Linked DNA regions of Homo sapiens. The protein of the gene in region 3 purifies or fractionates together with the protein of the main gene of each other region. This does not show direct contact. Each region holds a gene or a part of one and is shown on either strand. Other genes may lie near its edges.

Region 1 (2,187 bases), on a different chromosome or scaffold from region 3:
AGCAGAGAGGTACCACTTTGGATTTAAAAGAAGGTCGCCTCTGCAGTTTTCTGTGAGAGCACTGCTCTGGAAACCCAGAGGGCTTCTGTTCTGATCAGTTTGTCCTCTGAGAACCCTGTGAAAGTAATTAAAGTGTGCCTTAGGCCACAGCCTGCCAGCCCTGTTCTGTGTATACTGGGACTGAGAGCAGCCGTGGCATGTCTAGTCCTTGTGGATCTCCTTTTACTCTGGGGTAGGAGGTTTCTCTCAGTTCACACTCAGGACCATCATAAAAACTGTCAGGGCTGGGTCTTCTCCCCTGTGCTGCACTAAATTTGACACCTCCAGCAAATGTCCTCATCTCCTTGGGACCACCTAAGAGGAGGTGAAGGAATGTCTCAGCCTTACCACCCCTGACAGGAGGAACTGGGTGCTAACAGCATTGTGGAGTCCTACTCTTTCCTGGGCTTATTGGAGTCCTGACACCTCATTCATAGTCCTCATCTTGTCTCTAGATAGGACCTAGGACAGCTGCCTCTGCTGCTCTGATGCCCCTCACTTTAGATAAAGGCTCTCAGCAACCTAATGCCATTAAAAGAAGGTGAGTTCACATACACCTGACCTCCATGCCCAGCCTCATCAGCGCTGCAAGTGGGGAGTGGGGGAATCTTTGTTGTCTCTTCTTTATGTGGGAGGAGTTGTATCACTAGTCTTCATTCAGGGTCCTCACTGTGACCCCTGTAAGGCTCTGGGTCTCCTCACTCTTCCCTCTGCAGAACTGGGGCATGTAATTAGTTCAACCTTTCTGGCACTCTCTAGGCAGTAAGGGGGGCTGACGTTATTCCAAGGCTTCCTGGAGCTGAGAGAAGAGGCACAATTTGTGGGACTCTACTTTTTAGAGAGAGTGTTCCCTTTAGTTTTCTCTCAGGTCTCTGACCTTGACTCTTAGTAGGATGTGGGACACTTCCCTCCATTAACCTAAGTCCTCCAGCCTCAGAACAAGACCCTAGACAGGGAAGTCAGGGACCCCTCACCTATGAATACCTTTGCCTGGAGGTTGCAAAATGAGTGCAAGGACATTGTTTGTGTTGACACCTCTATTGCAGAGAGATTGCTTCATTAGCACTCAGGGCCCTCACCTTGACTCCAGTTAGGACCCAAGTCTCTCTTCCACCTGCTGAACTGGGGCTACTTTCTTAGACCAAGGCCCTTCCCTCCCTGAGACTTTCCAGGTAGATATCTGTCAGACAGCTTTCAAGGTATTCCCAGGGAAGACTTCCGGGGCAGGATTTAGTGTGGCCCTCTTTGTTACAGGTTGGGGGATGGTGGTCCCTTTCATGCACATTCAGGGTCCTGACCTTGACTCCAGACAGTCCAAGGAATTCACCCTCTGCCGAAGAGATCCCGTGCCCCTCGCCTCCAGATCCTCCCCTTCAAAGCACTTCCAAGGAAGTGAGGAAGAGCCTTATCTGTTCACAGCTTCCTGGGGTCTGATGGCTGACAACACGGGTGGAACTCTATGAGACTTCACTGTTTTGGAGTTGCTGGTCCCTAGATTCTCATTCAGGGTCTTCACCTTGGTATCTTATCACAGCCTGAAATTTCTCCCTCTACTGACCTGAGTTCGCCAACCTCCAAACAAAACCCTCATCTCCCTGAACACTTCCCTCCCTGGATGGGGAAGTCAGGGCCTCCGCTTATGACTACACTTGTCTGGAGCCTTCTAAACTGGCTAGCAGCAGTGAGACCTTGTCTGAAAAAAAATAAAAATAAATAAAAAAGACAAGGACCACTGGTGCTAACCAGGAGGATGCTAACCAGTAGGGCTGCTGCTGCTTTCTGTTGACGCCCCTACTGGGAACAGATCCCATCCTTTAGCACTCGGAGACTTCACCTTGGCTCCAGTTAGGGTCCAGGTCCCCGCCAACTGAATAACTGGGGCTGCTCCCTTAGTGAAAGACCCTCCCTCTGGGTGCCTTTCCAGACAGAACTCAACCAGGACCTCCCAGGGTCAACCACAAGGGTGAGACGTGTGGGTCCCCTTTTGTAAGGGGCAGGGAGTTGTGAGGGTGAGACACGTCCCGCTCTGGGTCTCCGAGGGCTGACAGCAGGGGGTGACACGCTGGGACCCCACTGTTCTGGAGTCAGTGGTCCCTAGGTCCTTATTCAGGGTTCTCACCTTGTTACTAAGCGGAGCAGAGTAACACC
Region 2 (3,518 bases), on a different chromosome or scaffold from region 3:
TCTTGTGGGCTATTGTACTGTTGGCCAAGATTATCTCCTGCAAGAAACACAAAAATTGTTGTTTCACATAATACAAAAATCAGAAAACCTGTCACATGACTTCTCTGAAAAAGTATCTAACCAGCTTTAAATAAAAACATGCCCCTACTTTCGTTCCCCTTTTGTACAGCAACTGCGTAAAAACAGGAGCTGAAGAGACTCACTGGGTAGGCCAGAGACGTCAAATGGAGAAAGATGATCACCAACTCCTTTTCAATGGTAAAGTTTATTTTATTTATTTATTTATTTATTTATTTTTATTTATTTATTTTTTTGAGACGGAGTCTCGCTCTGTCACCCAGGCTGGAGTGCAGTGGTGCTATCTCGGCTCACTGCAAGCTCTGCCTCCCAGGTTCATGCCATTCTCCTGCCTCAGCCTCCCGAGTAGCTGGGACTACAGGCGCCTGCCACCACGCCTGGCTAATTTTTTGTATTTTTTAGTAGAGATGGAGTTTCACCGTGTTAGCCAGGATGGTCTCGATCTCCTGACCTCATGATCCGCCCGCCTCAGCCTCCCAAAGTGCTGGGATTACAGGCATGAGCTACTGCGCCCCGCCCTATTTATTTATTTATTTTTTTGAGACAGAGTCTTGCTCTGTCACCCAGGCTGGAGTGCAATGGCACAATCTCAGCTCGCTGCAACCCCCGCCTCCCGGATTCAAGCGATTCTCCTGCCTCAGCCTCCCGAGTAGCTGGGATTAAAAGCGTGCACCACCACGCCCGGCTAATTTTTGTATTTTGAGTAGAGACAGGGTTTCACCATGTCGGCCAAGCTGGTCTTGAACTCCTGACCTCAGGTGATCTGCCCACCTCGGCCTCACAAAGTGCTGGGATTACGAGCGTGAGCCCCCGCACCCAGCCTTATTTATTTTATCATTATTTTTTCATGTAATTTTTTTCCAGAAGCATAAATTCAAGTTGCCCTAAATATTCACCCCCTCAATGTCAAATTTTAGATCATCTGTAGCTTAACAATATATTAAAAAAAGAAGTAAAACTCATATGTTGCAAAGAAAGGTTCAATATCAAAAAAATACAATAAAGATTGGCCTCACAATTGAAGAAAATTTTAGCACACATCTTAGAATCACCACAAGGCACTGCTGAGCAAGTCTAACCTGACCACTACCATATACAAGAACCCCATCAAGTGGTCACACAGACTATCCATAAACCCGAATCCTTAAATTTTGCTTTTTTATTAAATTCCGCTGTTTCAGAAGCATTCTGTTAAATGGCTTATTATCTTCCAAATCCAAGATACTTTAAGTATTCTTAAAAGCCTAGACCCTAACTATAATATCTAGTCAAACAATTATTAGGGCTTACGAATAAGGGCTTATAAGTACAGAGTGTTTACTCTGTGCCAAGACATTGTGTTAAATATTCTACATGTTATCTCATTAAAGCATCTTGATTACCTTATGAGGTCAATACTGTTATCATCCCCATTTTACAGACAATTAGACTAAAAGAAGTAAACTGACTTGTCCAAAGATACATAGTTACCAAAGGGCTCATTCATTATTGTTCTAGACTAAGAAGGCTTTTCTTAAGCAAGTGTATAATAATATGCAAAGTTTTATTTTGCCTGCCATGGGTAAAGAAGCATTTTTGGAAGAGCCACGACCAGTGACCAGATTTACCTCCTGCTTCCAACTGAACTCCTGGAGTCAAGTGAAGAAATTCTGGTTTCATGCTTACTCGGGAGCCAGAAATAAAACCAACAACAAATTCAGAGTGCTCCTCAGCCATTCTAACCTAAATGGAATGTAATAGGACATATTATAAGAAAACAGTTAATCACACAGAATAAAAGTAAAAATATGCTCTATTTTTTCAAAACTTAAAAAAAAAAAAAAAAGACATGAGGTCTCCCTATGTTCCCTGGCTGGTCTTGAACCCCTGGGCTCAAGGGATCCTCCTACCTTGGCCTCCCAAAGTGCTGGGGTTACAGTTGTAAGTCACCATGCCTGGCTTATGCTCTATTATCTAGTTAGAAACTTTGCTGTATTATAGATGCCTTTTCTCATTCCATATATATAAAGTTACTATATCTGAAACAGGTCATCTTAGATAGAAACCATAATAAAACACATCTGCTTCATTAAGACTCTGAGATGACCCTTTCCCTTCCCTTCCCGCAATAAACCATACGTAAAGCAGAAATCCTATACTATATGCATCTAAAATCAAGATGCTGCATAATTTCTTATTTCTAATAATGCTTGGTGACCCACCTACTTCCAAAAAGGATTTGAGGCGAGTACTCTAGAACATATTATAATGGTATGAAACCACATTCAAGGCTTACTGACTATCTACAGACGGGGTACTCCATATCCAAAGGCAGCTGTCATGTAAAGAACAGCTACGCTTTCAAGAGCTAAAGAAATCTCACCTCTACCACTTTCCCTCTTCTGTAACATCAACTGGTCTCCCCAATTTCTATACTATTATCTCACATTCATAAAAGTCTCTTTAGAAGGTCTGCCTGGCTTTCTGATTCGGTAGGTACTTTCCCCGAGACGTGACTCCCATACTTCCCTTCTTATTTGATACTTCCCGGAGACCAGACTCAGTACCACCACTGCACTCCAGCCTCGGTACTTCGAGACCTGAGACACACATTGATACATTCATTCTTGCCACCAAGTACTACTGCCAACAAACAAGTCATGTCTTGTCCTTGAGCCAGACCCAGACTCCCAGAATGCCAAATATTAAAACTGACTCATGGCCCCTGTGATTTTGAGACTTGGGAAATCAGACAGTTATAGTCAATTCAGGGATAGGGTTAAAACCTGACTGTAGGGCCATATGAGTTAAGTCTCCAAATAGTCTGAAATAATATGAAAAAATGGAAATCCTTTACTTCTAGAATCTTCACATGGGGATTGTCTTGGGGATTTCATTTTTAAAAAAATCATGGGGATTTTCTTGGGGCTTTTTATTTTTAATTTTTTTTGACAGGCTCTTACTCTTGCCCAGGCTGAGGTAAAGTGGCATGATCATGGCTCCCTGCAGCCTTGAACTTCAAGCTCAAGCGATCCTCCCACCTCAGCCTCCCAAGCAGCTGGGACTATAGGCACGTACCACCATGCCTGGTTATTTTCTTTTTCATTTTTTTGTAGAGACGAGATCTCACTATGACGTCCAACTCCTGGCCTCAAGCAATCCTCCCGCCTTGGCCTCCCAAAGTGCTAGGATTACAGGTGTGAGCAACTGCGCCCAGCCCCCTATGGCAATTTTTTTAAAGTAATATTATATTCTAAAATATCTGACAAGAATAAGAGAAAGCCACTGCATGTGGGCTGCTGTCATGGGAATGTGCATCTCTGTAGGACTTGGGAGATTCTGAGAAACTGCATGTCTGGGAAGCTCTTCTCATCTTCTCTCAATTCATGGTAAGATGAAAAAGACATTATCTTAAAGTCCTGGTAGATTTAGTAAGTGTTTGTTTGACTAACTATCTGGGT
Region 3 (4,868 bases):
AGGTGACGGGGGGCCTGCCCTTTAGCACTCACAGGCTGGGAAAGAGACAAGCTGGTCAAGAGCTCCCCACAGTGAATGCTATGGGAAGGCTCAGGGGAGTTTGGAGCAGACACTGCCACAGCCCGGGAGTCAGCCCTGCTGGGCCGAGACAGACAGATGTGCAGCCAGACGTTCCTGCCCAGCCCGAGGAGCCCAGCATGGCCTGGCTCAGCAGCTCCATCCCAGCTGACGTGCTATCTCCTGTCGCTGATGTGTGTGTGTTCCCGCCCTGAGATACAATCCTTCTTCTGGAGCGCTCCTTCCAGCTGCAGGCCCCAGCTCCCAAGTCCTGCCCGAACCCTGGATCTTGAACTCTGGTCAGAGCGCTCTGCTTCCTTGGTGGCAGCCACTCCTCTCTCTTGGTCTTTTTCCTGCCTCCTGCTTCCTGTTCTCCTATCCTTGTGTCCTGGCTCACCATCAGAACTGGCAGCCTCTCCTGGGCTAGAACCAACAGGATTTTGTGTTTCTCTGGTCACTGCTCACATTTCTCAGGGCTTTATGCACAGTCCATTCTCATGGTCTCAGAGGAGGGATAGAAGAGGCTCCACTTGGGGAGTCAGGGAGATGGGGTGCCAGGTGAACGGTTAAGGAGGCGGTCAGCAGAGCCTGGCTGCAAAGCCCAGTGGGGAGTGGGGATTTGCTTTGTGCAGAACGGGGTCAGGACCGGGCCTGTCCCACAAGCAGCTGTGTGATCCAGGCCAGACTGTCCCCAGTAGGAGCTTAGAGAGAGCAGAAATGTGACCACAGTGTTTCCCTGTACAGGCACCTGTGCCATCTGTGTCTGTGTGAGAACCAACATGAAATGAGCAATGCCCAGGCTTGGTCCTCATGGCATATTGGTTTGGGCTCAGTGTTGATTGGCCCCAGAGTCTCAAGATGCCCTCACGGTGAGGTGCTGAATCATAGGAGGCAGGGGGAGACCCCTGGGGAAGACAGGGAGGGGGCTCCCTGGGAGTTACTTCCTAGGGGCTGACTAGAATGGAATCTCTCCCATCTCCTTTCCCATACCTTAATTCTCAGCCAGCTCTGAGCCTTTTCTGGCATTGGTGGAAAATTCATTTCAGAAAGAATGGGTGTCCTAGGACACCTTTAATCATTGCAGCCTCAGGGGTGGGGTAGGTGGAGAGTGGCTTCAACTTCGGCACCAAAATTCTATCTCGTAGCATCTTGGACTGGCTCACCATTTTGATGCCATTGTTTTCTTCACTTTTGAAATTTCTCCCTCTCCACCCTTGTGTGGTTGACTGAGCAGAACTGGGACTCACAGCTGTCCACGTCAGGCAGAACACCTCACTCCTCTGCACCTCGGTCTCCTTCCTTGTGGATATGGGATGCCTTGGCTCTGGCAGCTCTGATACAGGGGCTGGGGGCCTCCCTCCTCTCAGGCCCCCTACTGCCCTGATCCAGGATGGACAGCTGGCAGGAAGGACAGATGGGCTCAGGCAGAGTTTGGCACTCATATTTATTACAGGTTGGCAAGAGTGAGGTTCCCGAGGCAGTGTCACTCCTCATCGTGCATTTTTTGCTGCAAAAAGAATAAGAGGTGTGAGGGGGCAGCTGGCAAGAGGGAGAAGTGTGTGGGGACAAATCCCTGGGGCTTTCAGAGGCCTAAGGGAGATGCCCTTGGAGGGAGAGGCAGGGCCCCAGGGATCCTGTGGTCCCACGTTAGAGGCACTTGTGGTTTAGGGGGATGGAACTGGGGATCTCTGCAGAAGTTCCAGTCAGTGGGGGGCTGTTTTGAGCAGGAGAGTGGATTCTCAGGTTATGTAAGCTATGGGACCCTCAGAACTGCCTACATATAGGGCAAGCAGTGCCCACTCTGAAGGGCACCCATATCAGGGGGCATGCTAATGTGGAAGTGACTAGTGAAGCCCAGGGGAGGGACCCACCTTGGCACCAATGTCACGGCTCTTGGCTCGAAGCTTGTTGACCTGGGACTCAGCGATGTCCGCCCGCTCCTCTGCCTCATCCAGCTCATGCTGCACCTTGCGGAACTTGGACAGGTTGGTGTTGGCTTGCTCCTCCTGTGGTGGGACAGTGGGGATGGGTGAATGAGCTGGAGATGGGCTATGGGATTCTCAGCCTCTCAACCTGAGGTTCCAGCTCCCTGTCCCTGAGGCACCCATACCTCATGCATATTCCTGCAACAGCCTTCCCAAGGGTATCCTGCAACTGCCTTGCACTCTTCTCAAACATGTCCAGCACTCAGAGTCCTTCACGGCCATCCACTGCCCCAGACAAATCCCATGCTGCCCGATCTGGGCCCCTTCAGAATCCTGTTTTGCTGCACCTGTCCCGGACCCCAGCTTCCTGTGCAGGCATGCTAATCAGCAACTCACATCCACCCAGATGTCTTCCCCACTGCCCTGTGGCTAGCTGGGTCCCCTTCTAGGCCCAATTCCACCGCCACCTTCCTGCCTTCAGCTTCGGCTGCCCCACGTCCTGCACTAGCATCTACACTGCCTTCTGTTGGGTTATGGTATCTGAATTGTAAGCAGCTTGTAGGTGGTGCCTTTGTTAATTCAGAACACCTGACAGCTCTGAGCATACCAGATGTGTCAAACAAATGTTTGAGAGTTAAAGTTTATAGCAAACTCTTTGTCCAGGCCCCTCTGTAGGAGATATTCATTGGTTCTCACAAATAGTAGGTGTGTTGATGAGAAAGGGAAGAAAGCTCTGAACTCACCGCCTCCTCGGCCTGGCGCTTGTAGGCCTTGACCTTCAGTTGCAGCTTGTCCACCAGGTCCTGTAGCCGCAGCAGGTTCTTTTTGTCTTCCTCTGTCTGGGGGTGGGAGGGTGGGAGAAGCTGGTTTGGAGGGGGAGCAAATGCAATCACCTTTCCCTCCTCCATCATTTTACTCTTCTCCCCTTGCCTTTGCTGCCCCTCCCTGCAATGATCCAGGTCAAAGAGGTGGTGGGGAAGATTCTCTGACTCTATCGTAGGTCAAAGGGGCAATGCAAGGTTGTCAGTCAGGGATCCACAGAGCAATGAAGGCTGAAGTCATAAAGCTAGAAGTAGGGGGAGGGGCTCAGAACCTAATGGAATTCCCTAATGTGGTAATATAAAAGCACCAGGTCTGTTCCAGCTCCAGTATGGTGGATAAAGCTCCAACCTGGACTTACATAGGTTCTCTTGGCCAGTAGTTCTTGACCAGAAAAAGAATGCAGAAAGAAGGGGGTATTATCATAATCCAGATTATTCTACATTCTAATATATTGTACTGGGCCAGAATTCAGGCATCGGGATCACTGGCTCCAACGTCACTCGATCATTCCTATCTCTTTATCATTGTATGTGCCAGGATGCCATTTCTACTTCTGTCCACAAATCACTCTGTGGTTCTGTATCTGTAACCTCTTTCTTGTGCCTCTGGTATCCATCTATCAAATGGACTGACACCCTCGTCTCCTTGGCCTTTTCTTCCCAGGTACACTGAAAATAACGGGCCAAGGGCACAGCTCTCAGCTATGCAAGTGGAGGTTTTAGAGCATTCTAGGGTCCTCTTTCTCTGTGGCCTTCTCTTTGTGTGCCAGAAGTTCTATGGAAGATTTCCGGGTCTTTTCCCCTCCCCTGACTCTTATCCCCACAGTCGAAGGTGGAAGGATTCTTTGAACTGTTCTGAAGTCTTCATGGTAGCACTTAGAGTTATTAAAAAAAAAAAAAAAGAAAGAAAGAAACCTGGGGAAAGACTAGTTAGAAGAGTTTTCAGGAAGTAGAAGTAGATTCTTCATTTGCTGGAAAAACTCATAGACTCAAGTCAAACTGACTGCAGAGCGTGAGAAGAACGTTAAATCTACCAACAGCATCTCAAGGAGGAGGTGAGAGGAGCCCTGTGAGGGCGGGGCAGTGGGGCCAGAGAAGAAACTTCCACATCTACTCCTGGTGTCTGGCGTCCGCCGCACCTGGTAGGTGAGCTCCTTGATGCGCCGCTCGCTCTTCCTCATGCCCTTCACCGACTCTGCGTTGCGCTTCTGCTCGGCCTCCAGCTCACCCTCCAGCTCCCGCACCCGCGCTTCCAGCTTCTGCAGCTGCTTCTTGCCTCCCTTGAGGGCGATCTGCTCGGCCTCGTCCAGCCGGTGCTGCAGGTCCTTAATGGTCTGCTCCATGTTCTTCTTCATGCGCTCCAGGTGGGCGCTGGTGTCCTGCTCCTTCTTCAGCTCCTCTGCCATCATGGCGGCCTGTGTGCAGGAGAGAGGTGGCAAGGAACATGGGCCAGGGGCCGGGGCCTTTTGCCCCCCAAGGATCTCCTTTCTCCCATCAGGCCCTCAAATCCACAGAACTGCAGAGTTGGCTTGGTGTTACAGCACAGTGGCCTGGCCTGGACCCAAGGCCTTGTTTCTGTCTTTAGGGGAGGCGGAAGGTGGGCGGTCACTTACATCCGTGATGGCCTTCTTGGCCTTCTCCTCGGCGTTTCTGCACTCCTGCACTGCCTCCTCCACTTCCGACTGGAGCTGGGTCAGATCCGACTCCATCTTCTTCTTCTGGTTGATGAGGCTGGTGTTCTAGACATGGAGAGAGAAAAATGATCAAATATATACTACACTTTGTTACCTGATTTCATACCCTTTCTCCAGAAAGAATTAAAGGTGGTCATTTTTTTTTTAAAACAACAAGCCCACTTTTAGACTATTGATCGTTTTGTACCTGCTTTCCCTTTTCCTATGAAAGTGCATACATTCTAGACATTGTATCTAAGATTACTAAACTCTGAAAAAAGACTTCAAATAGCAAAAGGTCTGCAGTATTACCCTGGAGCTCTTTAGCAACATGTTTACGTAGGAGCATGACAATATTCCAAGGAAGATGGAAACAACTTTTTACCAGGACA
Region 4 (3,518 bases), on a different chromosome or scaffold from region 3:
ATGGAATGTAAAATAGTGTGGGCACTTTGGAAACAGCTGGCAATTCCTCAAGAAGCTAAACACAGAGTAACAACATGACCCAGCAATTCAACTCACATATTTACATCCAAGAGAACTAAAAACATACGTCCACGTAAAAACTTGTACATAAAAGGTCACAGCAGCATTTTGAACAGACAAAAAGTAGAGACATCCCAAATGTCCACCAACTGATGAATGTATTAATAAAATGTGGTATATCTACACAATGGACTATTACTTGGCAATAATAAGCAATGGTGTACTGATACATGCTACAACATGAATGAATCTTGAAAGGGTTCTAAACACAGAAGGCCCCCTATTGTTTGGTATCATTGATATGATGTGTCCAGAATAAGTAAATCCACAGAGACATAGATTAGTGATTGCCAGCATCTAGAGGGAGCATATAATGGAGAGTGACTGCTAATGGGTATAGTGTTTCTTTGGGGAGTGAAGAAAATGTTCTGAAATTAGATAGTAATGTTAGTTGCGCAATTATGTGAATTGACTAAAAACCTCTGAACTGTATACTTTAAAGGGTGAATTATAGCTCAATAAAGCTGTTATTTTAAAAGATAGGAAAACAATAGTTATTCAAAGACATGAATCTAATGTATTTTAACCACTTAGATCTTTAACCACTTATATCTCCAATTTACTCTGCAAAAACAAGAGTCATAAAATGTCAGTATACCTATATGATGAATTATGTATCCATTAAAATTAAAAATGTTTAATGACAGGAAAATACATAAGAAGTATAAAAAGTAGAATACAGAACTGTATGTATAGTATATTCTCAATGATGTTAGAATATAGGCATTATTAATAAAGCACTTATCTCTGCTAAGAGCTTCACATTTGATCCCACAACCCTGTGAAGCCTGTTCTGTCTTGAGAGACAATATAGTATAAAGGCTAAGAATACAGTCTGGAATCACTGTCTGGGTTCACATCCCAGCTTTTTCACTAACTATAAAACAGAACTAATTAAATATATAAGTGCTTAGAACCCCTGCTGATATGGTTTGGCTGAGTCCCCACCCAAATCTCATCTCGAATTGTAATCCCTATAATCCCCATGTGTCATGAGAGGGACCCAGTGGGAAGTGATTGGATCATGGGGAGCAGTTTCCCTCTTGCTGTTTTCATGATAGTGAATTCTCATGAGATCTGATGGGTTTATAAGTGTCTGGCATTTCCCCTGTTTGCACTCACTTTCTCTCCTGCCACCTTGTGAAAAAGGTACCTGCTTCTGTTTGGCCTTCTGCCATAATTGTAAGTTTCCTGAGGCCTGCAAAACTGTGAGTCAATTAAACCTCTTTTCTTTATAAATTACCCAGTCTCGAGTATTTCTTTATAGCAGCATGAGAATGAACTAATACACCTGCCTAGCATACAAAATTGTATTTAAATGTTGAGGATAATGATGTCAGTGACAACAATTAACCCTTTTCCCAAATAAGAAAAATGAGACTGGAAGAATCAATACAGTGAAAATAGCCATACTGGCATTTTTAAGTAATTTATAGATTCAATACTATGCCTATTAAACTACCATTAACATCTTCACAGAATTAGAAAAAACTATTTTAAAATTCATATGGAACCAAAAAAGAGCCCATATGGCCAAGACAATCCTAAACAAAAAGAACAAAGTTGGAGGCATCATGCTACCCTACTTCAAACTATACTACAAGGCTACAGTAACCAAAACAGCATGGTACTGCTACAAAAGCAGACATATAGACCAACGGAACAGAATGGAGAACTCAAAAATAAGACTGCACATCTACAACCATCTGATCATCAACAAACCTGACAAAAACAAGCAATGGGGAAAGGATTCCCTACTTAATAGTGTTGGGAGAACTGGTGAGCCATATGCAGAAAATTGAAACGGGACCCCTTCCTTACACCATAGACAAAAATCAACTCAGGATAATTAAAGGCTTAAATGTAAAACCCAAAACTATAAAAACCCTAGAAGAAAATCTAAGCAATACCATTCAGCACATACACACAGGCAAAGATTTCATGATGAAAATGTCAAAAGCAATTGTAACGAAAGCAAAACTTAACAAATGGAATCCAATTAAACTAAAGAGCTTCTGCACAGCAAAAGAAATTATCATCAGAGCAAACAGACAACCTACAAAATGAGAGAAAAATTTTGCAATCTCTCCATCTGACAAAGGGCTAATATCCAGAGTCTACAAGGAACTTAAATTGACAAAAAAACAAACAACCCCATTAATAAGTGGGCAAAGGACATGAACACAAACTTCTCAAAAGAAGACATTTATGCAGCCAACAAACGTATGAAAAAAAGTCAACATCACTGATCGTTAGAGAAATGCAAATCAAAACTACAGTGAGATACCATCTCATGCCAGTCAGAATGGCGATTATTAAAAAGTCAAGAAACAACACATGCTGGCAAGACTGTGGAGAAATAGGAACAATTTTACACTGTTGGTGGAAATGCAAATTAGTTCAACCATTGTGGAAGACAGTGTGGCGATTCCTCAAAGACCTAGAACCAGAAATACCATTTGACCCAGCAATCACATTTCTGCATATATACCCAAAGGAAAATAAATCATTCAATTATAAAGATACACACACATATATGTTCACTGCAGCACTATTCACAATAGCAAAGAGATGGAATCAACCCAAATGCCCATCATTGATAGACTGAATAAAGAAATGTGGTACATATAAACCATGGAATACTATAAAGCCATAAAAAGGAATGAGATCATGTCCTTTGCAGGGGCATGGATGGAACTGGAAGCCATTACACTTGGCAAACGAATGCAGGAACAGAAAATCAAACACCACATGTACTCACTTATAAGTGGGTGCTGAACAATGAGAACACATGGACACAGGGAGGGGAGCAACACACACTGGGGCCTGTCAGATGGCAGGGGGATGCAGGGAGACAGAGCATCAGGAAAAATAGCTAATGCACGCTAGATTTAATACCTAGGTGATGGGTTGATAGATGCAGCAAACCACTATGGCACACGTTTACCTATGAAACAAACCTGCACATACCGCACGTGTACCCTAGAACTTGAAACAAAATTTAAAAATATTAAGAATATTAAAATTCAAAAAAAATGAAAAATGAGGCTTAGAGAAAGTATATAGCTCAAAGTTATACAAATAATAACAGGCAGAGCCAAGAGCTGACACTCAAGACCAGGTCTGACTGACTGTAAAGCACATGCTGGAAAACTTTGCCAGAATTGGGTTACCTCTGTTTGCTTTTATATTTCCCAAATTTTCTATAATGGACCTATGTTACTCTTAAAAATGGGGGGAAAAGTATTTCAAGTTACATTTAGAATATTTTACTTATTCAGAAGCTAAAACTCCAGATGAGAATGCATACTGGCCAACGACTTGATTACAGCTTTGGAAGACCCTAAGCAAAGAATCTAACTAAGCCATGTCCAAACTCACAACCCACAGAAATTGTG

Evidence for each region.
Region 1: the proteins of MYH6 (region 3) and MAGEB3 purify together in Homo sapiens (co-immunoprecipitation; one large-scale study listed by IntAct). This does not show direct contact.
Region 2: the proteins of MYH6 (region 3) and UMPS purify together in Homo sapiens (affinity purification with mass spectrometry; one large-scale study listed by BioGRID and IntAct). This does not show direct contact.
Region 4: the proteins of MYH6 (region 3) and SPICE1 purify together in Homo sapiens (affinity purification with mass spectrometry; one large-scale study listed by BioGRID and IntAct). This does not show direct contact.

The regions. Positions count from the first base shown.
Region 1 is NC_000023.11:30,233,639-30,235,825, reverse strand, and holds part of MAGEB3 (melanoma-associated antigen B3), read right to left. Parts: intron 1-2,187.
Region 2 is NC_000003.12:124,740,434-124,743,951, reverse strand, and holds part of UMPS (uridine 5'-monophosphate synthase), read right to left. Parts: intron 1,801-3,518; coding exon 1,686-1,800; intron 38-1,685; coding exon 1-37. UniProt on the Homo sapiens protein: Bifunctional enzyme catalyzing the last two steps of de novo pyrimidine biosynthesis, orotate phosphoribosyltransferase (OPRT), which converts orotate to orotidine-5'-monophosphate (OMP), and orotidine-5'-monophosphate decarboxylase (ODC), the terminal enzymatic reaction that decarboxylates OMP to uridine monophosphate (UMP).
Region 3 is NC_000014.9:23,380,500-23,385,367, forward strand, and holds the end of MYH6 (myosin-6), read right to left. Parts: intron 4,543-4,868; coding exon 4,417-4,542; intron 4,219-4,416; coding exon 3,943-4,218; intron 2,822-3,942; coding exon 2,726-2,821; intron 2,064-2,725; coding exon 1,929-2,063; intron 1,565-1,928; coding exon 1,541-1,564; 3' UTR 1,488-1,540; downstream 1-1,487. UniProt on the Homo sapiens protein: Muscle contraction.
Region 4 is NC_000003.12:113,508,657-113,512,174, forward strand, and holds part of SPICE1 (spindle and centriole-associated protein 1), read right to left. Parts: intron 1-3,518.